Homo sapiens: one gene and its partners. The protein of the gene in region 5 interacts with the protein of the main gene of each other region in a pairwise test. Each region holds a gene or a part of one and is shown on either strand. Other genes may lie near its edges.

What was found.
Region 1: the proteins of HUNK (region 5) and DIS3L interact in a two-hybrid assay, tested with the Homo sapiens proteins (one large-scale study listed by BioGRID and IntAct).
Region 2: the proteins of HUNK (region 5) and NEUROD2 interact in a two-hybrid assay, tested with the Homo sapiens proteins (one large-scale study listed by BioGRID and IntAct).
Region 3: the proteins of HUNK (region 5) and SORBS1 interact in a two-hybrid assay, tested with the Homo sapiens proteins (one large-scale study listed by BioGRID and IntAct).
Region 4: the proteins of HUNK (region 5) and SPARCL1 interact in a two-hybrid assay, tested with the Homo sapiens proteins (one large-scale study listed by BioGRID and IntAct).
Region 6: the proteins of HUNK (region 5) and PTPRA interact in a two-hybrid assay, tested with the Homo sapiens proteins (one large-scale study listed by BioGRID and IntAct).
Region 7: the proteins of HUNK (region 5) and SNRNP48 interact in a two-hybrid assay, tested with the Homo sapiens proteins (one large-scale study listed by BioGRID and IntAct).

What each region holds. Positions count from the first base shown.
Region 1 is NC_000015.10:66,331,568-66,334,398, reverse strand, and holds the end of DIS3L (DIS3-like exonuclease 1), read right to left. Parts: exon of another isoform or gene 2,531-2,831; intron 2,525-2,530; coding exon 2,379-2,524; intron 1,664-2,378; coding exon 1,489-1,663; intron 1,396-1,488; coding exon 1,087-1,395; 3' UTR 501-1,086; downstream 1-500. UniProt on the Homo sapiens protein: Catalytic component of the RNA exosome complex which has 3'->5' exoribonuclease activity and participates in a multitude of cellular RNA processing and degradation events.
Region 2 is NC_000017.11:39,605,121-39,609,322, reverse strand, and holds the start of NEUROD2 (neurogenic differentiation factor 2), read left to right. Parts: upstream 1-1,402; 5' UTR 1,403-1,595; intron 1,596-2,718; 5' UTR 2,719-2,723; coding exon 2,724-3,872; 3' UTR 3,873-4,202. UniProt on the Homo sapiens protein: Transcriptional regulator implicated in neuronal determination. Mediates calcium-dependent transcription activation by binding to E box-containing promoter.
Region 3 is NC_000010.11:95,414,872-95,418,371, reverse strand, and holds part of SORBS1 (sorbin and SH3 domain-containing protein 1), read left to right. Parts: intron 1-2,186; coding exon of another isoform or gene 2,187-2,903; intron 2,904-3,500. UniProt on the Homo sapiens protein: Plays a role in tyrosine phosphorylation of CBL by linking CBL to the insulin receptor. Required for insulin-stimulated glucose transport. Involved in formation of actin stress fibers and focal adhesions.
Region 4 is NC_000004.12:87,480,877-87,484,376, reverse strand, and holds part of SPARCL1 (SPARC-like protein 1 isoform 1 precursor), read left to right. Parts: intron 1-1,816; coding exon 1,817-1,953; intron 1,954-3,500.
Region 5 is NC_000021.9:31,998,520-32,002,019, reverse strand, and holds part of HUNK (hormonally up-regulated neu tumor-associated kinase), read right to left. Parts: intron 3,495-3,500; coding exon 2,836-3,494; 3' UTR 1-2,835.
Region 6 is NC_000020.11:2,879,981-2,883,480, reverse strand, and holds part of PTPRA (receptor-type tyrosine-protein phosphatase alpha isoform 1 precursor), read right to left. Parts: intron 1-3,500. UniProt on the Homo sapiens protein: Tyrosine protein phosphatase which is involved in integrin-mediated focal adhesion formation.
Region 7 is NC_000006.12:7,596,698-7,600,197, reverse strand, and holds part of SNRNP48 (U11/U12 small nuclear ribonucleoprotein 48 kDa protein), read right to left. Parts: intron 526-3,500; coding exon of another isoform or gene 497-525; exon of another isoform or gene 339-496; intron 1-338. UniProt on the Homo sapiens protein: Likely involved in U12-type 5' splice site recognition.

The DNA of each region.
Region 1 (2,831 bases), on a different chromosome or scaffold from region 5:
GCTACTGTCCCTGGCCAATTTTTGTATTTTTAGTAGAGATGGGGTTTAATCATCTTGGCCAGGCTGGTCTTGAACTCCTGACCTTGTGATCCACCCGCCTCGGACTCCCAAAGTGCTGGGATTATAGGCGTGAGCCACTGCGCTCGGCCTAGAGTTAATTTTTCTAGTGGGGTGTTTGCTGGCAAAGTAACAAGTTTCCAACAAGGGGAAGGCCAATGCACCTCATCAAAATGGGAGAGTGGGAAGGAAGGCCTGTGACAGAACTTTACCTGTGCATCCTACCACCCGCCCTGTGTCCTAATCCCAGCTAGTACTGGAGACAGCAGGTAAGGGTTGAGTCAAATATGAAATAGGAATTTTTAAGTGGAGAAGTGGACTCAGGACTAAGTCTTATTATCTGAAAGTGACTGAAAATTACCTGACAAATGTCAGAGGGGCCTATGACCCAAACGTAATTACTGGAAAAATAAAACATTTGAAAGAACTGATTGGAGACGAGATAACCAGTAATTTCGGGTTTATTAAACTTATTAGAAAGGGGCCATCTGCAGAGCCACCACTTACTGTCCACTCATTACTGAAAACTCTGTTTCCATAGTGACCTAATTATACTTTATTTAATGCAACTTTAATGAATGAGAGAACTTTTTTTTTTTTTTTTTTTTTTTTTGAGATGGAGTCTCGCTCTGTTGCCCAGGCTGGAATGCAGTGGTGCGATCTCGGCTCACTGCAACCTCCTCTTCCTGGGTTCAGGCAATTCTCCTGCTTCAGCCTCCCAAGTAGCTGGGACTACAGGCGCATGCCACCACGCCGGGCTAATTTTTGTATTTTTAGTAGAGACTGGGTTTCACCGTGTTAGCCAGGATGGTCTCAATCTCCTGACCTCGTGATCCGCCCGCCTCAGCCTCCCAAAGTGCTGGGGTTACAGGCGTGAGCCACCGTGCCCGGCTGAGAACATTTTACATATATGCGAAATAGCTACCCAGTCCTGATCGACTAGAGCACTGAGTGACACACATTAAATGTTAAGTTTGAAAAGACTGTAAAACATTCACATATGACAGCTCTTAGTGAAGTAAGAGCCTCTCATATTCCATAATTGTTTGAAACATCCAGGAGAGCTAGGTCCCGTATCTCCTCTAGAAGTGTGTATAGGCTCCTTCCCTTTGTTTGGCGATATTCTTGATATTCCTCCTGAATGATGTTTACTTTGACTTCTTGGGCAAGCTGAGCTTCTTCCACAGATTTAGTTACTTCTTTCACTAACTCACTCTTCAGCAAGGGGGAACTCTGATGAATAAGTTCTGTATTTGGTATCTTGTATGGTTTGTTACTAATTATTTCAAGTCTGATTGTATCAGAATGGCAACGTGAGGCCTGTATGGATATTCTTACCTAGCATAGAGAAGAAAATACATATTACTAAATCACATTATTTATTCCTTACATTTAAAATATTAATAATACTTAATAGAAACACAGACTTACGGTTACATGGTCAAACAAATGGAACGTAACAGATTCCCCATCTGTTGTAGTAGAGGTAATTTTGTTTTGAAATCGTTGAAGGGATCCTGGTTTCCATTCAGAACAGCTATCTGGGCCACATGAGATGACTAAACCATCTTTATTTTTTAGATAAGCAGCACCTTTAATCCCAAACCTATATTATGACCAGAATATAAATCCAGAGACAATGTATTCTTAGTACACAGATCTTGTATGCTTATCTAGAATACTAGTTTTTCTCCTAGATTAAAAACAAATCACTTTTCCTGTGGTTTACCTCCACGTATTTATTTCACCTTAGCAGATGGAAACAAAGTATTTTGCTGGATAAGAAAGACCCTAAAATGGATATAGAAGTGTGTGTGTATATATATACACACACACACACACACACACACACACACTCCAGTCTTCACTTTTTTTTTTTTTTTTTGAGACAGAGTCTTGCTCTGTCGCCCAGGCTGGAGTGCAGTGGCACGATCTTGGCTCACTGCAACCTCTGCTTCCCGGGTTCAAGTGATTCTCCTGCCTCAGCCTCCCAGGTAGCTGGGATTTCAGGCATGCGTCACCATGCCCGGCTAATTTTTGTACTTTTAGTAGAGACGGGGTTTCACCATGTTGGCCAGGCTGGTCTCGAACTCCTGACCTCAGGTGATCCGCCCACCTTGGCCTCCCAAAGTGCTGGGATTATAGGCGTGAGCCACCCCTGGCCTCCAATCTTCACATTTATATACTGAATTATACATTACATTATGTACATATGATAACTAGTTGCTTAAATATTTTAATAAATTATATCTAATGTACAGTTTGTGTTCTACACTTTTAACTATGATTTCTTATGCACCATTGCATTAGATGTAACATACCTTGGTATAAATAGAAGCACACCATTTGTTCTAATTGAATAAATAACTCCGTCAGATATGCAACGCTCCTCGGTGGCAGGGTCTTTGTCTTTGAAGTACATGCACTGGAAGAGCTCAGTAGACTGCTTCTGAGAATGCTGTGCTGCCTGTAAGAAGCACAACTCCAAAGCATTTTAACACTCCCCTGGCATTCCCCAAAGAAACGAAATTCATATTCATTCAAATGTGAGATTCTGTAAAACTATTAATATAAAAATTGTTCTCTACTATGAAATTAAATTACTTTTTGTGGGAACTTAACCATCTAGTATTATCTCCTCAAAAATGTCTTAGAAAATGAATTATTTTATAAAATGAAACCCATTTATAGTTCATGAAATTAGAGATCAGCAAATTTGGGTCATGTTCACCTTGGGTACAGGAAAAGTATTACACATGTCTTACTTGCATTTC
Region 2 (4,202 bases), on a different chromosome or scaffold from region 5:
ATGGGGTGTGGGCAAGGGTCTGTCTACACCAGGCTGTGATTACCTGCTCACATACATGTGTCTATCTGAGTAGGGGTATGTTATCTATTTTTCTACACCACAGGGTGAGGAACAGGTATATGTGTGCATGTGTATGCATCCGTGTGTGTGTGTATGTGTGTGTGCATGAGTGTGTGTGTGTGTGTCCAAAGCCACCTCTTCAACCTGTGCCATTTGTATCTGTGTCTGGCCCAATGAGAGTGTTGAAAGGTGAGCCACAAGATAAAACAGCAACTTCCTACCTCCCTTATCAAGACAGCTGTCTGACCTACCTCCCCTTGGCCACTCTTGGGATTACTGGGGTTGGCTTCAGTATTTTCAGATTTTTCAGAAGGGGAGGAGAATGCTTGAGTCTCATCCAGGAACTTAGGCAGTTCTCAGCACTGCCTGCTCCTCCTCCCTCAAATAACCAAGTCTGAAGACCAGGAGAGAAAGCCGCTGGTGGACTGGTCACCTGTCTGGCAGTGGGAGGAGGAGAGTGAGAGGTTTCTAGGTTAGGAATCCAGACTTAGACCCTCCCCTCCACCCCCAGATGGGTGGTGCACAGGCTCATCTCGCGGCCCCTCCCCACTCCACCCTAACATGGATACGCCCCCAACAACCAAGGAAAGATCTCCCATCGGCTGACTCCACAGATACACACATGTCCCCACAGACACACACACGCCCATGCAGAGGCACAGACATCCAGGCACATCTTTCCCTTTCTCTGTCTTTCCCTTGGTTTGAATTTCGTTTAGCCACATATGTTGTGTGTGCGTGAGGGTGGGTGGGGGAGGGGCAGACAGGGATGAGGGATGGCATGGTGCCAACATCTACCTATGGGGCTCGGGCCAGGGACGCCCCTTACAGCCATCCTGGGAGGGGGTCTCAGCTGTCCCTTTGTGGCCAAGGGGACCCTCCTGGGGAGTGGGGGCAAGCACAGAGGTCCTTTCTCCCCAACCCGGGGTCTGGTCCCTGACCCACCTTGGGGGCCTGCAGGGGAGGAAATGGACAGAGCGGGACCCTGAGGGAGCATAGAATTGGCCACCACGAGCCCCCAGTGTCCAGCCTTGCCACCCCATTGTTCCCGTGAGGGGGTCTCTATATACAGGGGGCAACTCCTCCCACCTTCCTCTCAATCCCTGCTTTCCCTGCGTTGGGCGGGGAGGGGAGGGCGGCAGAAATATTTATTTATTTCCTTTATTTATTTAATTTTTTTTTTTTTTTTTGGAGTAGAGAGTGACAGATGGCGGCGGGTCCCGGGGGAGCCGGCTCTCCCCCAGTGCAGACGCATGCCAATCACCGTCTCTCATGTGATAGCTGCTGCCCGTGACGTGCCAAGCCCATATGGCCTGGCATAGAGGCTGGTACCCCGCCTGGTAGAGATGCCACACTCGCTCCGCGGTTCGCATGGCGCTCTGAAGACGCCGGCGCCCGCCGCCTTGAGGAGCCGCTGCCCCCGCTCCCTGAAGATGGGGGAACAATGAAATAAGCGAGAAGATCCCTCTTCTCCCCCCTCTCTCTCTTGCCCCCTCCCCCCCTCCCCTCCCCTCTCCCCTTGACTCCTCTCCGAGGTAAGTTGTCCGAAAGGGAGCGAGATCTGACCCGCCGGTTGGGAGGAGGGGCGGCAGCTTCGGCCGACAGGAGGGTCCTCAAATACCTCCTTCCTGGGATGATGCCCCCCTCATTGGGTGGGCATCGGAGGGGCCCCAGGTTCTCTCTCCCTTAGGGGCTGCAGCCCAGGGGGCTGCAGAGGAGGTGTCTCTGCCTGCGATGGGCTCGGTGGGGGGGGAAGGCAGGATCACGGAGGGGGATATGCGAAGAGGCCGAGACGGAGGACCCCTCCATGGTTGTCCCAAAAAGCCTGCCACCTTTCCCCACCACCGAAAAAAGGGAAGCAAACAAACAAATTTGGATTTTTCCCCCATCAATCCCAAAATACAACGAGATCTGAAGAGCCTTGTGGGAGGGAGTCAGCTTGAAGGGGGAAGGGGGTCCCTGACCGCAGAGGGGACGGACTGGGCTCGCTTCTCTCAGTCTCCTCCCCACGCCCCGCTGCTTCAGTCCTCGCCGCCCAGAGCCGGCTCCGGGAGCTGGGGACGCATCGGCTAGAGGAGACGATCCTCCCGCCTCTGGAATTGGGGGTGCGGGGGTGGGGGCCGAGCAAGGGGCGGCGCGCAGCCAAGTTGCAAATTGGATTAGGGAGCGTGGGGGTGAGAGCCACGGGAGGGGTGAGGGAGCTGGGCCGGGGGGCCCGGGCCGCGAGAGCGCGGAGCGGGGCAGCTGTCCCCACCGGCGGCCGACCAGCCTCTCTCCACCGCCAGGAGAGAACGGGCTTTCAGGGCGAGCGCGCCGCCTCCCCTGGCAAAGATATCTGGTCCCTAAAACCCCCACCCGGTCCCTGCCCTGACCCTGAGAAGAAGCAGGCGCGGGGAGCAGCCCCCCATTCAAGCGAGGGGCGGAGCCGGGGCCCAGCGCCGGGGAGAGGGCCTGGGCCGAGATCCCAGGCCGGCAGCCGGGTAGGGCTGGGCCGGCTCTGGGCGGGGCAGGCGGCGGAGGTGGGCATCCAGGGTAGCCTAGGCAGGAGCCCGCACGAGACTCGGGGGTGGAGGAGGGTTGTGGGGGGGCGTCGGTACCCCAGCGCGCCCCTCACTTTGTGCTGTCTGTCTCCCCTTCCCGCCCGCGGGGCGCCCTCAGGCACCATGCTGACCCGCCTGTTCAGCGAGCCCGGCCTTCTCTCGGACGTGCCCAAGTTCGCCAGCTGGGGCGACGGCGAAGACGACGAGCCGAGGAGCGACAAGGGCGACGCGCCGCCACCGCCACCGCCTGCGCCCGGGCCAGGGGCTCCGGGGCCAGCCCGGGCGGCCAAGCCAGTCCCTCTCCGTGGAGAAGAGGGGACGGAGGCCACGTTGGCCGAGGTCAAGGAGGAAGGCGAGCTGGGGGGAGAGGAGGAGGAGGAAGAGGAGGAGGAAGAAGGACTGGACGAGGCGGAGGGCGAGCGGCCCAAGAAGCGCGGGCCCAAGAAGCGCAAGATGACCAAGGCGCGCTTGGAGCGCTCCAAGCTTCGGCGGCAGAAGGCGAACGCGCGGGAGCGCAACCGCATGCACGACCTGAACGCAGCCCTGGACAACCTGCGCAAGGTGGTGCCCTGCTACTCCAAGACGCAGAAGCTGTCCAAGATCGAGACGCTGCGCCTAGCCAAGAACTATATCTGGGCGCTCTCGGAGATCCTGCGCTCCGGCAAGCGGCCAGACCTAGTGTCCTACGTGCAGACTCTGTGCAAGGGTCTGTCGCAGCCCACCACCAATCTGGTGGCCGGCTGTCTGCAGCTCAACTCTCGCAACTTCCTCACGGAGCAAGGCGCCGACGGTGCCGGCCGCTTCCACGGCTCGGGCGGCCCGTTCGCCATGCACCCCTACCCGTACCCGTGCTCGCGCCTGGCGGGCGCACAGTGCCAGGCGGCCGGCGGCCTGGGCGGCGGCGCGGCGCACGCCCTGCGGACCCACGGCTACTGCGCCGCCTACGAGACGCTGTATGCGGCGGCAGGCGGTGGCGGCGCGAGCCCGGACTACAACAGCTCCGAGTACGAGGGCCCGCTCAGCCCCCCGCTCTGTCTCAATGGCAACTTCTCACTCAAGCAGGACTCCTCGCCCGACCACGAGAAAAGCTACCACTACTCTATGCACTACTCGGCGCTGCCCGGTTCGCGGCCCACGGGCCACGGGCTAGTCTTCGGCTCGTCGGCTGTGCGCGGGGGCGTCCACTCGGAGAATCTCTTGTCTTACGATATGCACCTTCACCACGACCGGGGCCCCATGTACGAGGAGCTCAATGCGTTTTTTCATAACTGAGACTTCGCGCCGGCTCCCTTCTTTTTCTTTTGCCTTTGCCCGCCCCCCTGTCCCCAGCCCCCAGAGCGCAGGGACACCCCCATCCTACCCCGGCGCCGGGCGCGGGGAGCGGGCCACCGGTCCTGCCGCTCTCCTGGGGCAGCGCAGTCCTGTTACCTGTGGGTGGCCTGTCCCAGGGGCCTCGCTTCCCCCAGGGGACTCGCCTTCTCTCTCCCCAAGGGGTTCCCTCCTCCTCTCTCCCAAGGAGTGCTTCTCCAGGGACCTCTCTCCGGGGGCTCCCTGGAGGCACCCCTCCCCCATTCCCAATATCTTCGCTGAGGTTTCCTCCTC
Region 3 (3,500 bases), on a different chromosome or scaffold from region 5:
GCGCTGTGGCTGACGCCTGTAATCCCAGCACTTTGGGAGGCCAAGGCGGGCAGATCACTTGAGGTCAGGAGTTCAAGACCAGCCTGGCCAACATGGTGAAAACTCGTCTCTACTAAAAATACAAAAATTAGCCGGGTGTGGTGGCACAGGCCTATAGTCTCGGCTACTCAGGAGGCTGAGGCAGGAGAATTGCTTGAACCTGGGAGACGGAGGTTGCAGTGAGCCAAGGTCACACCACTGCACTCTAGCCTGCGCAACAGGGTGAGACTGCATCTCGGGAAAAAAAAAAAAAAAGAATGAAATAAAATTAAAAATAAATTCAAAATAGACCCAGATCTTGCACCCTCCCCATTTTTGGTCAAAATTCACTTACCGATATTGATCAGACTCTAATATACTTCACTTGCGTAATTTGGAGGAAAGTTCTGGTTTTCTTCTAGAACTGGGATATCTTTAAAAATAGGAGCCATTCACGCCTGTAATCCCAGCACTTTGAGAGGCCGAGGCAGGTGGATCACAAGGTCAGGAGCTCAAGACCATCCTGGCCAGCATGGTGAAACCCCGTCTCTACTAAAAATACAAAAAATTAGCTGGGTGTGGTGACATGGGCTTGTCCCAGCTACTCAGGAGGCTGAGGCAGGAGAATTGCTTGAACCTGGGAGGCGGAGGTTGTAGTGAGCCTAGATTGTGCCACTGCACTCCAGCCTGGGTGACAGAGTGGGACTATGTCTCAAAAAAAAAAAAAAAAAGGAGCCATTAAAGAAAACCTAGGCTGGGTGCAGTGGCTCACTCCTGTAATCCCAGCACTTTGGGAGGCTGAGGTGGGCAGATTATGAGGTCAGGAGATTGAGACCATCCTGGCTAACACGGTGAAACCCCGTCTGTACTAAAAATACAAAAAATTAGCCAGGCATGGTGGCATGTGCCTATAGTCTCAGCTACTTGGGAGGCTGAGGCAGGAGAATCACTTGAACCCAGGAGGCGGAGGTTGCAATGAGCCGAGATCGCGCCACTGCAGTCCCGCCTGGGTGACAGAGCGAGATTCCATCTCGAAACAAAATAAAACAAAACAAAAGAAAAGAAAATCTAGCAAAATGCAGTTTCCTCATCTCATAGTCTAATTCCCAGTTGAGCCGCAGATTGCCAGATGACTCTTGTTGACATGAGGATCAGACTGGAGGGTCATCCCATTTCCTGACCCTCTTCTCCACTGAGACCCAAAGAGGAGCAGTGTTGAGAAGAGAGGGATGCTGTGTGAGCCTCTGGACCTGCAACCAGAGCTTTGGGCTTAAGCTGTGAATCTGAGGCTGATCATTTACCTCTGGGGCTGATTCCCTTTGTGTGGTGGTGGGCTGGGTGAGATGGGCATGGGGCTAGATTTTGAGAAACTAGGCACAGTCCAATCCGGTAGAGGCCAATTCAGTCCTTCATTGCCTGGTCCCCTTTTTTGTGTACATCAAAAATGGGAGACTGTGTGCTTTTAATCTCATGCTTGTCTTCCTTCTAATAATTAGCTTCATCAAATTCTTTCCTCTGAGAAAAGAGCACATGTGTATTCAAAAATCCTTAGCATTCTCTTCTTAGGGCACGTTAATTTGTTATGCTTATGGAATTGAGTGCTAAATCTCAGTGACTCAATTAAGACATCTGTCTCCTGTGAACACAAATAAGGACGGTTCTTCCAGTTCTCCTTTTCCTAAAGGAAAAGAATGAAAGGCACTCAAAAGAGTTCCAGTGAACATAAACTTCTAAGGCCAAAGGCTCGAAGATAAATCTTGAGGGAAGGAGGTTTGAGAGGGAGTTGGGGGCTTTGGTGCTTCTCCCACTGGTGTTTAGTTCACTTGGCTCCCTTCTTGAGTCAGGATGTCTAATAAAGATGCAGTCAGCCAAGGATTGGTGTCACAATTGATGTAGCATGTGGCCTGCTACGGGCTGGGCTCAGCCTCTCTGGATACAAAGGAGAGTCAGGCCTACCTCTCCAGGTGAGTGGGATTCAGTCTTTGGCTTCACTTAGAATTGTGGATACTAGGAGGAGTCTAACCTGAGGATGTGCTGAAAAACGTGTTAAGAATTGTTTTTGCTTGAATCATGTTATGCTGTCGTTTCTAATGATCGTCCTTCTTTCCATTTCCCCTCCTCTTTCTTTTTTCCCTGTTTGATAACATATCTTGAAAATATTGCTAAAGGTTCTCTCTCCCCCACGCCCTCCTCTCCCTCAAAAGGACCGCTTTGCATGGCAGTCCCCCACCATCCACAATACCTATAAGGATTCCCTCTACCTGAGCTCACCAAAGCCTTATGTCCCACTCGGCACCCCCAGACAGCAGAACCCCTCACAACCCCAGCCTATCTCTGTCCTCCTGGCAGCTGGATCGGCTCCCAAAGGTGTGGTGTGCCCTGGTTCCTTGCTTCCGGACTCCACGTTCCCCAGTGCTTCATCCCAACCCCAGCAGCGCTATGCAGCCACCAGGACAGTTTATCATAAGAATGTGAGCTCTAACCCATGTCATGAGGCAGTTGGGATTAAAAAGGTCAGCAGCTTATATGTACCTTGTTTATCCAATAACATTTGCCTGGCGGCGTCAGAAAACTCCTCTCGTGTTGCACGTGACCCTGCCGAAGGCACTCCCTTGGAGGCTGCGGGCACCCGAGCACCGGCTCCCGGCCTTGTCTCCCGCACAGCCGGCACAGGAAAACCACCCCCTGCTCCTCCTCCTGACCCTCCCAAGCTATTCTTTGACATCCGTAAAGATGCCGTTAACCGTGGCGAGAGTCCTTCCCTGGGGACTCAGGCTTCGTTCCCAGATGTGAGACCACCTGTGCTAGGCCCCCGGGTTACCTCTGATCCCGAAAACCGGAAGAGCAAAGAATCTTACCTTTTGCAGCCGAGTTATCCAGCCAAGGCAAGAAATTAGGAATGTTTGTGTGTCTTCTCTACTGTCTCTTTCAAAACTGATGCGAGCAGCTCATTGTTCACTGGGCTGCCCTACCCTCCCTTTCCTCATTAATGTTGTTGTGGCTTGAGTCCCGAATTCTTCTGTCTGAACCTTTCAGCACAGTACTCTCTTTGTCTGTCTCTCTTTTCTGTAAATGTGTAAGTATGCCGGAGCGTGGAATCCAGAGACTAATAACATGGTGAGAAACTCATTGTTCATGTTTTATTACAAGGTGCCAAAGAAATTGTATTTACTCCCAAGCTTTTAGGCTCTATGGTGGTGTTGTGGGGTTAAACACAGCCTGCCTGCCTGTTCTGTTCTTTCTCTCTCATAAAGTGTTAAAAGGATTCAAAAATAGATGGATGAAAAGCGGAGTTGGATGGGGTTCCCTCTGTGTCATGGAGTGTCAGAAGGCCAGCTGGCCAGCTCCGACTGTCTCATGTACTCTGAGGAAAGGGCACTGATTAAATATTTCTCAGAGTACCTCACTGCATGCCCACTCTCAACCGTTTAAATATGGAATTCTTTCCTCGTATCATACCCCTTTCCATAACGACCCCCTTA
Region 4 (3,500 bases), on a different chromosome or scaffold from region 5:
TGACAAACCTGACAAAAATAAGCAATGGGGAAAGGATTCCTTATTTAATAAATGGTGCTGGGAAAACTGGCTAGCCATATGCAGAAAACTGAAACTGGATCCCTTCCTTACACTTCATACAAAAATTAACTCAAGATGGATTAAAGACTTAAACATAAGACCTAAAACCATAAAAACCCTAGAAGAAAACTTAGGCAATACCATTCAGGACATAGGCATGGGCAAAGGCTTCATGACTAAAACACCAAAAGCAATGGCAACAAAAGCCAAAATTGATTAATGGGATCTAATTAAACTAAAGAGCTTCTGCACAGCAAAAGAAACTATCATCAGAGTAAACAGGCAACCTACAGAATGGGAGAAAATTTTTGCAATCTGTCAATCTAACTAAGGGCTTATACCCAGAATCTACAAGGAACAGATACAAATTTACAAGAAAAAAACAACCCCATCAAAAAGTGGGTGAAGGATATGAACAGACACTTCTCAAAAAGAAGACATTTATGCAGCCAAAAAACATATGAAAAAAAGCTCATAATCACTCGTCATTAGAGAAATGCAAATCAAAACCACAATGAGATACCATCTCTCACCAGTTAGAATGGCGATCATTAAAAAGTCAGGAAACAACAGATACTGGAGAGGATGTGAAGAAATAGGAACGCTTTCATATTGTTGGTGGGAGTAAATTAGTTCAATCATTGTGGAAGACAGTGTGGCAATTCCTCAAGGATCTAGAACTACAAATACCATTTGATACAGCAATCCCATTACTGGGTATATACCCAAAGGGTTACAAATCATTCTACTATAAAGATGCATTCACACATATGTTTATTACAGCACTGTTCACAATAGTAAAGACTTGGAACCAACCAAAATGCCCATCAGTGATAGACTGGATAAAGAAAATATGACACATATACACCATGGAATACTATGCAGCCATAAAAAAGGATAAGTTCATGTCCTTTGCAGAGACATGGATGAAGCTGGAAACCATCATTCTCAGCAAACTAACACAGGAACAGAAAACCAAACACTGCATGTTCTCACTCATAAGTGGGAGTTGAACAGTGAAAACACATGGACACAGGGAGGGGAACATCATATACCAGGGCCTGTCAGGGGCTGGGGGACTAGGAGAGGGATAGCATTAGGAGAAATACCTAATGTAGATGATGGGTTGATGGGTGCAGCAAACCACTATGGCATGTGTATACCTATGTAACAAACCTGCACATTCTGCACATGTATCTCAGAACTTAAAGTATAATTAAAAAAAAAAAAAAACGGCAGTGATCCTGAGCTCTGGGGAGACTGCAATGAGCAGAGCCCTCCTGCCAACTTGTATTGGACTTGTAGCAGGATTGCAAAATTGACTTCTGTTTCTTTAAGCCACTGAGATTTAGCATTATTTCTTACTGTAGTATCAGCTAATAGCTACCTTTTTCTCTATTCAATAGCACTTGTGCCCTCCACCTACAAATTTCAACTCTGATTCTACAGCAGTGATTCTGGGGCCTAGCTGCACATCCAAATAGATCTTGGAGCTTTAAAAACATCCTGATGCCCAGACTTCACGCCAGACCAATCACATCAGAATTTACTTGATTGGAAGCTGGCATTTGGTATGTTTTTTAAAACCCCAGGCAATTTTGTTGTGCTGCTGCCAGGGCTGAGGACCACTGTCATAATAATGGGGACCTGAGAAAGCTCTGTCAGTTGCCAGAAGTCGTTAAGCTTCCTATTATGAGGACTTGCCATAGGACACAAATAAGCCCAAAGATTACAGTACATTTTCTGCTTGTAACAGCTATTCCTACTTGTACGGACTTTGAAGTGATTCAGTTTCCTCTACGGATGAGAGACTGGCTCAAGAATATCCTCATGCAGCTTTATGAAGCCAACTCTGAACACGCTGGTTATCTAAATGAGAAGCAGAGAAATAAAGTAAGTTATCCACAGGTTAGCTTCTTCAATGTCTGTCTACAGGGCATGAGGAAGAAAGACGTGGTGGGGGGGCTACCTACCTCTGCATACTGGCAAAAGCCCACTATGCTTCCCCATGCCCGGTTAGCCCATGTGGCTTAACAGAATAATAGATGTCACCATTCACGCCACAAGGTTTCAGACACCACCAAACCGCCCCATTCTTCCCAATGGTCAGTGGCCTGAATTAGGGCTCTTCAATTCCTACCTAGAGCAAGCTCTGGTTGAGCAAAGTTAATATAAATTTAGCATTGATCTAGTCAGTCCAAACATCTTATTTAAATCTAAGCATTTGTTTTGTTCTCATAGGCCAGACATAGATGTATGATATAAAGTAAATCCATTACTCAAAATATCAGTAATATATTAAGATTAAAAAGCACAGAACATTGATTCCAAAAGCTTCCAGAGAAAATTCATTCACCAGATAGTTATTGAGTGTATCCTGGGTGCCAGAAATTGACCTAAATACTGGAGATACAGCAACGAAAAGAAAATCTCTGCCTTCATGAGTTTACATTCTGGGTGAAGAGACAGACTCTAAACAAATAAGTATATATGTGTGTGTGTATGTAATGTTTGTATATGCATATATTTGTACATACATATATATGCATATATGCAATTATATATAGTAAAATGAGCATTTATGTAAATATAACCAAATCAGCAAATATATGTATAAGTATGTCAGTTGGGATTAAACATGGTGTGAAGACAAATAAAACAAGAAGGAGGGTGTGCATTAACTGTGTCAGATGCTGTTTATAGGTTATGAGTTGAAGACTGAGAATTGGCCAGGGATTTAGCATGTCAAAGTCATAGCTGACCTTGATAGGAACTGTTCCTGGGGTGGGAGCATGTTTCAGGAGGGAAGCTCCAGTGGACAGAGTTCAACAGAGACTAGGAGGAATGGATGCAGCAAGTATAGACAATCCTTTCAAGGAGTTTTGCTATGAAGAGATAAAGAGAAATGGGGTGGCAGCTGGAGTGGAAAGTGAGTACAAGAGTCCCACCTAGCAGTGGGAGATGGTAGAGGATGTTTGCACGCTTCTGGAAATAACCCAGTCAAGAAGGAAATGTTAGTGGGGAGCAGAGAATGCGCACAACTGCCAGAGGGCGTTCTTCGATACATGTCCCACCCAGAGGAGAGGGATTGGACTTAGGTTAGGAGCACAGGAAGGTCGCAGGGAGCAAAGTTGTGGTTCTGGGAGCAGGTGGAGGTCCTGTTTGCTTCCAATTACTCAGTGAAATAAGAGGCAACATCACAAGCTGAGAGTTTCACAGGCACTGCTCAAGAATAATTTCTAGCCCCCGTCTTGAATACCTTGTCACAGAGAGCCTTGAGGGTATTAGCTATGAAACAGGGAAATTTCAATGGGGCTGGCCAAGCAATAACACACCAGGGTGAAAGCAAGACTGAGTGGGCACTGGATGGATGACCTAGAAGACTAAGAGTGGACTCTGTCATCGGGGGAAGGAGCAGCACTTTTCACTAACTAATCACC
Region 5 (3,500 bases):
ATAAAGAAGCAGTCGTAGTGAGGGAAAAGTGTATTTCACAGTCATTACAAAAGTACATATATCTAATAATGGTGACATAAATATAGTCCTTACTTATGACCAAATCATACAATTAAAATGGACATTTCCTCCTAGACTTCACACAATGACAGTCCAGTCAATTTCTGTCAGTAACTACAGGGTGACTGGAATCACAGGCACAGACTGAGGAAGACAGTCACGGTCGAACAGACAACATGCTTCGGACTTACCAAAGGGAGAGTCGAGCTTTCCATATAAATATAATAAAATAATAAAGAATCTAACATTTCTCCTTTCACTCGGTTTCATAGATTTGTCAGGTGCTCACACACACACACACACACAAATACAGCTGATCCCCTTTCATCACTCCCCCTCACCTCTCACTGGGTTTAGAATAAACCTGAGTTCAGAGTCCAGGTCGCCAATGGCAACGCGGTCAGTTAGCGGCACATGTGCAGCTGTTCTTGAAGCCTGCCAGGAATAAGAAGCACGTTCTCCACAAGCTAACGGCAAGGCGGAAGTACCCCTGCTCTCAAGGAAAATGCATCAGGGGTTCCAGCAAGTTCCCAATGCGCAGGTATACACCCTGCAAGCCTGCAAAGTGGAGCCGTTGCAGCTGGAAACCGTCTTTAGAAAAGGTACACTTCATGTCGAATGGAGAGATGGTCTTAGATGATTATTTTCTTCTCTCTGCTTATAAAGCTCTATTTTCTTTTTTTGGAGACAGGGTCTCACTTTGCCACCTAAGCTGGAGTGCAGTAGCATGATCTTGGCTCACTGCAGCCTCGACCTCCTAGGTTCAAGTGATCCTCCCACCTCAGTCCCCGAAGTAGCTGGGACTACAGGCACGTACCACCACACCCAGCTATTTTTTTTTGTATTTTTCGGTAGAGACGGGCTTTCACCATGTTGCCCAGGCTGCTCTCGAACTCCTGAGCTCAAGCGATCCACCTGCCTCGGCCTCCCAAAGTGCTGGGATTACAGGTGTGAGCCACCACACCTGGCCTAAAAGCTCTGTTTTCAATGGTAAGTTCTGGAACCCAGTCTGAAGCTATACAAAAAATAACACCAATGGCCAAGGGGTCTGACCTCATCCTAGAATGCCCTAGAGCCGTGGTGATCCCCTAGGGAAGAAACAGGCAGCTCCAGGTCTCACCAAGGTCAGCCAAATATCCATTCTGTCCCGCTCTGTCAGAGATGTGAGGGACTGAAGGATGTCACCACTGGTGAATGAGAGAATGATTCAGAACTGCCTCTCTGCCTTCTGGCAAGGCTGCCTGCCAGGGAAATAAAGGCTGGCTTTGCAATTCTAGATTTGTGTTTTGGGATCCTTGGACTGAGATGACTATCTGAGGTGGCCACAGAGGTGGTCTCTGGTCACACCTGCACCGGTCAAAAGTTGAAGACTCCAGGCCATTCTGTAACTGGTCTCCTACACTAACCCCTATCCAACCTGTGCTGATGGGTCTTCTTTTTCTGATTCTTCTCACCAATGACTGCACCCTGTCAAGTGCCAGCTGGATACAGTCAGACAACACGGCTGTCCACAAAACACACACAGGGGCACAGACACAATACTGGAGACACATCTTTGGTTCGATCCTTGGAGAAAGGTGTGAAAACACAACGTGGACTGAACCCTGTTTGAGGAGCTTGGCTTTCCTCGAAGAAGAAACTGGCCTGTATCTGAACAGGTTCTCTGCCAGGCAAGCCTGCTCCCAGCTCCCAGCAAACTCGCCGAGCTCTGAGCCGCACCAGTTCTGTGGGCAGCTTGAAATCAGCATCGCACAGAGATAATGCTGCCTTCTCGCCATCTGAGTTATGCTCTGAATTGTCACAATCATCTTTTCCCTCTTTCTACAGAACCAGCTGTAACCGTGTTCTATGCCTTCCAGAAGGATCAGGGCTATGCCTTAAACAACAGGATGAACACAGGGCCACCGAGACTTGCCCTGCCTGTGGGCCACAGCACTCAGCAAATCACCACAGTCAGCTTTTTTGCTCTCCACACTGAACCCTCCTGTGAAAACATGAGTTTGGTGGAATTGCTTCTCATCTCTCCATCCAAGTTTTAAAAAATTATGTTATTTCAATTTACCGACATCACATTTAAAAAAAATCTTTGGAAAAGATAATTCAATCATTAGCATGTTTCAACAACAACAACAACAAAAATCTATCAAAATCTTGCTTGGGAAATGAGTGTCTCCTTCAGTCTTTCTCTTCTGTTGGGGTCCCCACTGTTTGGTTTGATCTTGGTCCGAAGCTCCTCTCCATCTTCCTCTGAGGATCCTGGGCCTGCCCCCGGCTCCTGCTGGCCTTCAGGTAATCCCTGCTATGAAAGGCAGGGCTGCTACACTCCGCAGAGGAAACGTGGCCTGGATGAATGACTGTGATATTGTTCTCTCCCTGTAACTGTGGCCAACTGCTGTGAGAGGCACACATGTAGCACAGCGTGAAGAAAGATCTGGTAACAGTCCATAATCTGAGTGCCCCAGAAGGCTCATGCCCTGTTTTCCCCCCAAGCCTGGGGGAAGTGGGAAGTGGAAGGGGTTGGTGAGTACTTGGGAGGAAGGAAGATCTGAATGATAGGAATTGGCTGCCCCTGGAGCCAACCCTCCTAGCGATTCCAGCATCTCTGGGGGTCCCTAAGCGAGGTTGGGTTGTGCAGGCTTTGGGTCTGTGGATTCAGCTACAGGTGGGACTAAGGATGCTCCACGCGAGGCCTTGGAGTGCTCACACCCTGACAGATGTGTGGAGCTCTGTTCAGTTGCTGTTTTCTAGAGATACCCCAAACCCCGCTGGCCCAAGTTAGCACTGGGTCTTGACCCCATCGGCCATGTCAAAGGCAAGGTTCACAGGGGCTAGGGGCTGCAGTGGGGGCAGGCTGGCCTCCAGGGGCCTATCTGCAGATGGCTGCAGACTCTGATGGCGCTTCCTTAACATCTGTCCGATGCCCATCATAGGGAACCGGCCTCGGCTTTTCACACAATTGGGGCTCCCCAGAGGCTGCATGGGGCCATTGCTGGGAACCGGAGGTGGGCAACACAGGCCCTCCTCTTTTGGGGGGCTGTTCTTATCTTCGTGAGCAAAAGAGACCAGAGTTGGATGCAAAGGAGTATGGAGAGGCGACATGCTTCCGGATGGCAGACCCGGGGACAGCGTCCTCTCGCTGGAATTTCTGCGAGCCAAGCTGACCGGGGAGTTCAGAATCCTGTAGTGATGAGAGGGAGACAGCACTTCTACGTGGTCGTCGCGATCCACAGACTCGAAGGAGCGCACCATGTCCAGCATCAGGGGGTCTTCCTTGTGGGGGATGCCAGTGCTTCCGGGCCCTGGCTGATGGGGCTCCGGTTTCTTCACAATCCTCGGGGTCCTGGGCGGTGGCACGGGGATGAACTCCATGGAAGAAGAAGCCACACAATTGGAATCTGAGGTTTTGCGGAAAATATTGCGGCAGCCAAAGGAATCTGCAC
Region 6 (3,500 bases), on a different chromosome or scaffold from region 5:
CGGGGTTTCACCGTGTTAGCCAGGATGGTCTCGATCTCCTGACCTCGTGATCCGCCCGCCTCGGCCTCCCAAAGTGCTGGGATTACAGGCGTGAGCCACCGCGCCCGGCCTGCACATTTCTTTCTAAGAAAAGAAGTAGTTCCTTTTTCACTCACTATTTAAATAATACTTTTACTTGAAGAGACAGATTAAGATATTATTTTTTCAAATGATATTTGCTAGGTTCAGGTTGAGTATTCCTTATCTGAAATGCTTGGGACCAGAAGTGTTTCAGATTTAGGTATTTTTCAGATTTTGTACTATTTGCATTATTCCTACTGGTTGCAAAATTAGCTGGGCATGGTGGTGCATGCCTGTAGTCCCAGCTACTCAGGAGGCTGAGGTGGGAGGATCACCCGAGCCCAGGAGGTCAAGGCTGCAATGAGCCATGATCATGCCACTGCGCTCCAGCCTGGGCTACATACAGAGTGAGAACCTGTCTCAAAAAAAAAAAAAAAAAAAAAAAGTGTTGGATTTGGAAGCCTTTTGGATTTCATATTAGGATTACTCAAACTGTAGCCACTTACCATAACAAAAAGTTGGCATTTTTTTAAAAAAGAAAAATGCAAAACTCATCAACAACTCTACCACAAGATAATTAACAAATAAGTGGACTCAACAGCCTGCCCATAGAGAAGTAATGAATGAATTTCATTCTTTTGTTCAGTCAAAGCAGCTGTTCCATTAATTTACATTCAGTCTATTATTCCATATAGTAATGTTCTTATGAAGGCAATCATTTACTATTAAAAATATGTCTTCTCCAGTACAACTTTCTTCCAGTAGCTCACAAAAGAAGTGGTCCTTATTCTTGGATGTAACTATTAAAAGGTAATCTAGGCCTGGCACAGTTGGCACGGTGGCTCATGCCTGTAATCCCAGCACTTTGGAAGGTCTTTTGGCAGGTGGATTGCTTGAGCCAGGAGTTCAAGGCCAGCCTGGGAAACATAGTGAGACCTCATCTCTCCTAAAAATAAAAAATAAAAAAAATAGGTATGGTGGTGCATGCCTGTGGTCCTGGCTACTTGAGAGGCTGAGGTAGGATGATCACTTGAGACTGGGAGGTCAATGCTGCAGTGAACCATGATGGTGCCACTGCACTCCAGCCTGGGTGACAGAACAAAACTGTCTCAAAAAAAAAAAAAGAAAGAAAGAAAGAAAAGAAAAAAAAGAGTATCTAGCGATACTGAGACATGCTAGAAGCTTCTGTACTTTTATAACCGTATACCAAACTTCCCACACTGCAAAATTTGTTCTAATATTGTTTGTTCACATATTCAGCAATGTTTTCTATACATCTTCCAACAGTATTTTGATTTCCTGACAAAATTATTTTCCATGTAGTACATCAGTCCATTTTTTGTTTAAGTGGGCCTTTTGGGGGTGGGGCAGGAAGAATCTGCCAAGGGTATGTGTTTTTTTGTCTTTTTTCTTTTTTTCCCCTGAAACAGTCTCGCTCTGTCTCCCAGGCTGGAGTACAGCGGCGCAACCTCAGCTCACTGCAATCTCCGCCTCCCAGGTTCAAGCGATTCTCCTGCCTCAGCCTCCCGAGTAGCTGGGACTACAGGTGTGCCCACCATACCTGGCTAATTTCTGTGTTTTTAGTAGAGACAGGGTTTTGCCATGTTGGCCAGGCTGGTTTCAAACTCCTGACCTCAAGTGATCCGTCCACTTCGGCCTCCCAAAGTGCTGGGATTACATGCATGAGCCACTGCACCCGGCCCCATTTTGTCTTTTATAAGAACAATAAACTTAAAAACTGGCCAGGCATGGTGGTTCACATGTGTAGTCCCAGAGCTTTGGAAGGCCAAGGTGGGAAGATCGCTTGAGCCCAGGAGTTCAATGCTGCAGTGAGCTATCATTGTGCCACTGTACTCCAGCCTGGGCAACAGAGTGAGACCCTGTCTCTTAAAAGCAAAAAACCCTCAAAATATAAATTTTAATAATTGAAGTTAGCAAAATTTTGTAAAGCATCTGATGGAATATCCTTTATCTTTAAACATCACTGCAAAAAAAATGTAGAGGTTCTTTTTATGTTCCAAATTTTTGGTTTTCAAATGTCTTCATACTGGTGACAGCCTCATATTTTATTATTTAATATCTCAAGGTTTTACATACTTTTTTTTTTTTGGAGACAGAGTCTTGCTCTGTCACCCAGGCTTGAGTGCAGTGGCGAGATCTCGGCTCACTGCAAACTCCGCCTCCTGGGCTCAGAGGATTCTCCTGCCTCAGCCTCCCGAGTAGCTGAAATTACCCAGAGGCACACGCCACCACGCCCGGCGAATTCTTGTATTTTTAGTAGAGATGGGGTTTCACTGTGTTGGCCAGGATGGTCTCGATCTCTTGACCTTGTGATCCACCCACCCTGACCTCCCAAAGTGCTGGGATTACAGGTGTGACCCACTATGCCCGGTCCTCCTCTTTTTTTTTTTGAGACACAGAGTCTCCCTCTGTCCCCCAGGCTGGAGTACAGTGGTGCAATCATGGCTCAATGCAGCCTTGAACTCCTGGGTTCAAGCAATCCTCTGCCTCAGCCTCCCAAGTAAGTGGGACTACAGGCACGTGACACCACACGGCTAATTTTTTATTTTTGGTAGAGATGGGGTCTCGCTATGTTGCCCAGGTTTGTCTTGAGCTCCTGGCCTCCTGCACCTCAGGCTCCCAAAACAGTGGGATTATGGGTGTGAGCCACCGTGCAGCTGGGTTCTACATACGATTAAAAGGAATCTTAAAGCAAGATTCCTATTAATGACAGAGCACGAAAGTTCATGTTTCTTATAAATTTCCTGATACTTTCCAATTTAGTAAGAGCTGACTTATTTGAATAGCTCACCAAGAATTCATCACAGGAGTTGGACAAGTGTCAGCTCTGACAACTTGTTTGCTTGTGCTTGTATTATTAGTATTTTCTTTGATCACTGGTTTCTCTGCATGTCCATTTTGTAAAGGCTAGTTCAATGAGAACTGGTTAATATAAACTGTTAACAACATGTTGCAATACATGGAGAACAAATGTATAAATATGTCTCTGCTCACTGCAGAATTCAGTCTCTTCCTTCAGGACACCCAAAGTTCTACAGTTAACACATTAACTGTTTGACCTATAGACCCAAGAAGATGCCAGAGACAATTCCTAAATTAAATGTTTTATCTTATCTTTTAGATAAAAACAATAAAAAGTTCTAAATTTTCTTCCAGTTCCCCTGGATCATCTTATCTACCTCAATTTGAAAACTACTGCTCTGGACTACAGCCACAGTGAACTTTTTAACAATTGCAAATCAGATCAGTTCACTCTCCTGCTTAAAAATCCTTCAAAGATTTAGCTCTGCCTTCAGGATAGAGTCCAAAATCCTTGCATGCCATACAGGACCCTCAACTCTGCTCCTTGCCATTCTCTAGTCTCAACACTGTCCTTAGTCTCTAGTTCTCAAGCCTGGCTACACATTAGAATCACCTGG
Region 7 (3,500 bases), on a different chromosome or scaffold from region 5:
ACACGGCTATACATAACAATATATGGCCATTTTTACTCGTCAAAGGGTTTTGAATTAATGGGGAAAAAAGGGTTCCCTTTCAAGTCAATCAATTTTATTCTAATTATAGTAGGCATTTCATAATACAAAATTATAAAAACAGCTTTGATAAGCCTAATTCCTTTGAATTAGGCTATAAAAATTTGGGAGGAAAACACAGATTAGAAAATAATGATGTATTACAAACAAGCTTCATATAAACCTTTGCCTGTTATTTTTAAACAAAGAAATATAATTTCCTTCTTAAATTATTTTAGCCTTTTCTTCAATTTATTCATCTTAAATTTCTTTATGATGAAGACTGATACTTAAATTCCTTGTAATTCAACCAAAATTCCAATTCAAGACTATAATATGTGACAGGTATTAAGATAAAGTTTAGAAATTTTACTTTTAAAAGGATATCATTTGCAAAAAGGATACTGCATATCTTTAAATAAGGAGTACATTCAGGTTCCTAATTCCTCTTTATACTCACCCCAATTACTGAAAAAGAAAAAGTACAGGAAAGGTTAAGCAACAAACTGCATTCAATTCATTCGGAACATAGATATTTCTGACAACAAAAAGGATAAACATACTTAAATAAACTTACATTTACATAAAATGTAAATTTTCAAAATGCATGTTTTTAAATGATTTAAAGGTACATATGAATGTGCTGTAATTATAATAACTCTAAGACCCTTTGGCTGCCTGTTTTTGCAGGTTTTTTGTGGCAAAATATATATAACATAAAATTTAACATTCTAACCATTTTTTCAGTGTACTGTTCAGAGACATGAAGTGCATTCACGTTGTGCAACCTCTATCCATCTCTAGAACTTTTTCGTCACCCCAAATTGAAACTCTAATCTATTGTTTTAATAATGCCAATTCTCATTCTTGTTACTTTTGTCATCAAAGGGGATCTTAAACATATAACATTCAACATTAAATAGTACTAGTAGGTGTTGTCACAAAGATACAAATTCAGAATTTTAGGGAGAATTCATTCAGAGTCAATTCCTTAACGTTACAGATAAAGAAATTAAGTGTCATAGAAGTAACATGACTTGCCCAAAGTCTCACAAGTGATAGGAACAGACTGGATCTAAAGCCCATCCTATGCTGTCTTTTTAAGTTTCTTTGATAGTACACTGATCTTCATATCATGGCCATGACTCAAACACACTTCACAATACTGAAGTATACAACCTGAATATTTAATATTGAAAGAAAAAGATAAACCACTAAACATAAAATGATTGTTTATGATTGAAATATCTTGGTTAAAAAATTAACCGAAGTAACTATATCTGAAAATAAGTATATAGATTGAATAGCTGTATGAGCTTTCATAAAGTTTAAGATTGAGAATTCTGTACACTGAGTTTAGGCCTGACATGACAGATGAAATGAAAACATACATATAAAACCTTGTCAAAAAACTTACATTGTAGTGTGTAACAAACAAAATACGAATTAGATGGAGAAATGTAAAATTTTTCATGTTAGTCATTCTCCCTTAAAAGTAAATACATCAATAAGATATTTAAAGAAAGTCCTGTCCTGAGGGAAAAGATCTTAAAATGTCTAAGACATAAGTGAGCCACAAAAATAATCTGTTGAGAAATTGCATAACTCTACAGAGGATATAAAAAAAAATTTTTTTTTCTTTTTTTGAGACAGAGTCTCACCCTGTCGTCCAGACTGGAGTGCAGTGGCGCCATCTTGGCTCACTGCAACCTCCATCTCCCAGGTTCAAGTGATTCTCCTGCCTCAGCCTCCTGAGTAGCTGGGATTACAGGCACGCACCATAGCGCCTGGCTAATTTTTGTATTTTTAGTAGAGACAGGGTTTCACCATGTTGGCCAGGCTGGTCTTGAACTCCTGGCCTCAGGTGATCTGCCCACCTGGGCCTCCCAAAGTGCTGGGATTACAAGTGGGAGCCACCACACGTGGCCAAAAAAAATTTTTAAAGAAGGTTGAAGATCATATAAAGTTACCGTTGGCCAGGCGCGGTGGCTCCCGCCTGTAATCCCAGCACTTTGGGAGGCCAAGGTGGGCAGATCACAAGGTCAGGAGATCGAGACCATCGTGGCTAACACAGTGAAACCCCGTCTCTACTAAAAAAATACAAGAAAATTAGCCAGGCGTGGTGGCAGGTGCCTGTAGTCCCAGCTACTCGGGACCTGAGGCAGAAGAATGGCGTGAACCCAGGTGGCAGAGCTTGCAGTGAGTAGAGATTGTGCCACTAAACTCCAGCCTGGGCGAGAGAGCAAGATTCCGCCTCAAAAAAAAAAAAAAAAAAGGTTACGGTTAACAATTAAATCTTAATTTAAGATAGTGTAAGAATTCAAAATTAAAGTTCCTCTTAACTATCAAAATAATATAATAGTTCCTCTTAACTATTCATTCAAAGTAATTCTTTGCTTTTGAAAAGAACTAAGCTCAATGTCCAAATCTCCCTTATTACTATTATAAAAATTAAAAAGCAGAACATTTTCTAAATTACTCATATATATAAAACTCATCCATTTCATTATCTTAATATTACTTTCTGTATATTAATTTTCACTTAGACCATAGAAGCTACCAATTTTTGGAGCTAAGGCTTGTTTAGCATCCATTATCTCTGTTCCTCTCAACAACTCTATGAGAGTTTTGTATTACAGATAAGGAAACAAAAACTCAGTTATCATCATTAATATATGGCCAAGCAGCTACTTTTATTTCTTTAAAACAGGTTTACACAAAGCAGAATAAACAATGAACAGCACTGATAGTCACGATTAGTATGCAGAGATATGAAGTTTGTGATATTCTTCCACTTAATCATGAAAGACATCATAAATAAATTTGAGCAATATCTAGAATCCTGGTCCACAAATTTTACTAAATGTAGGGTTTCTAACAGAAAATCAAACAACTCAGTTCAGAGTTTGTGTCAAAATTCAGAACTTAGTTCTGGATCCACTTTGATATTATCTAGCAGAGGTGAGTTACTTCACTTTTGTGTGCCTGTTTCTTCACCTATTATGGAGGGGAAAATATCGTTCAACTTATCACAAGTTTGTTGTGAAAGAGAAATGTAATTCATAAAAGAGCTTTAAAAAAATAACCTTTTAAAAAATAAAAATACGGAGAACCTTTAGAACAAACACACTAGAACTTTATCATGTCTCTATCAGACAGGGTTTTTCTTATCTGTAAAATGCAGACACTGGATTAGATGATCTCCAAGTTCTCTTTCAACTCTAAAATTCAGTAAATCTAACCACTTAAGACTCAAATAAAGTCCTTTAAGTATTATTAACCCTTTCAAAAACCAAAAACCTCAACTTTTTTATGGGTACACTACCAGGGGATATGAGCAGAACCAATAGCAGAGGCCAAAAAAGGCTTGACTAGTCATAGCTCAGTAATCTCTCCGAATAAATAAAATGAGAGTCAACTGTCTCCCTCAAAGAAAAAAACCT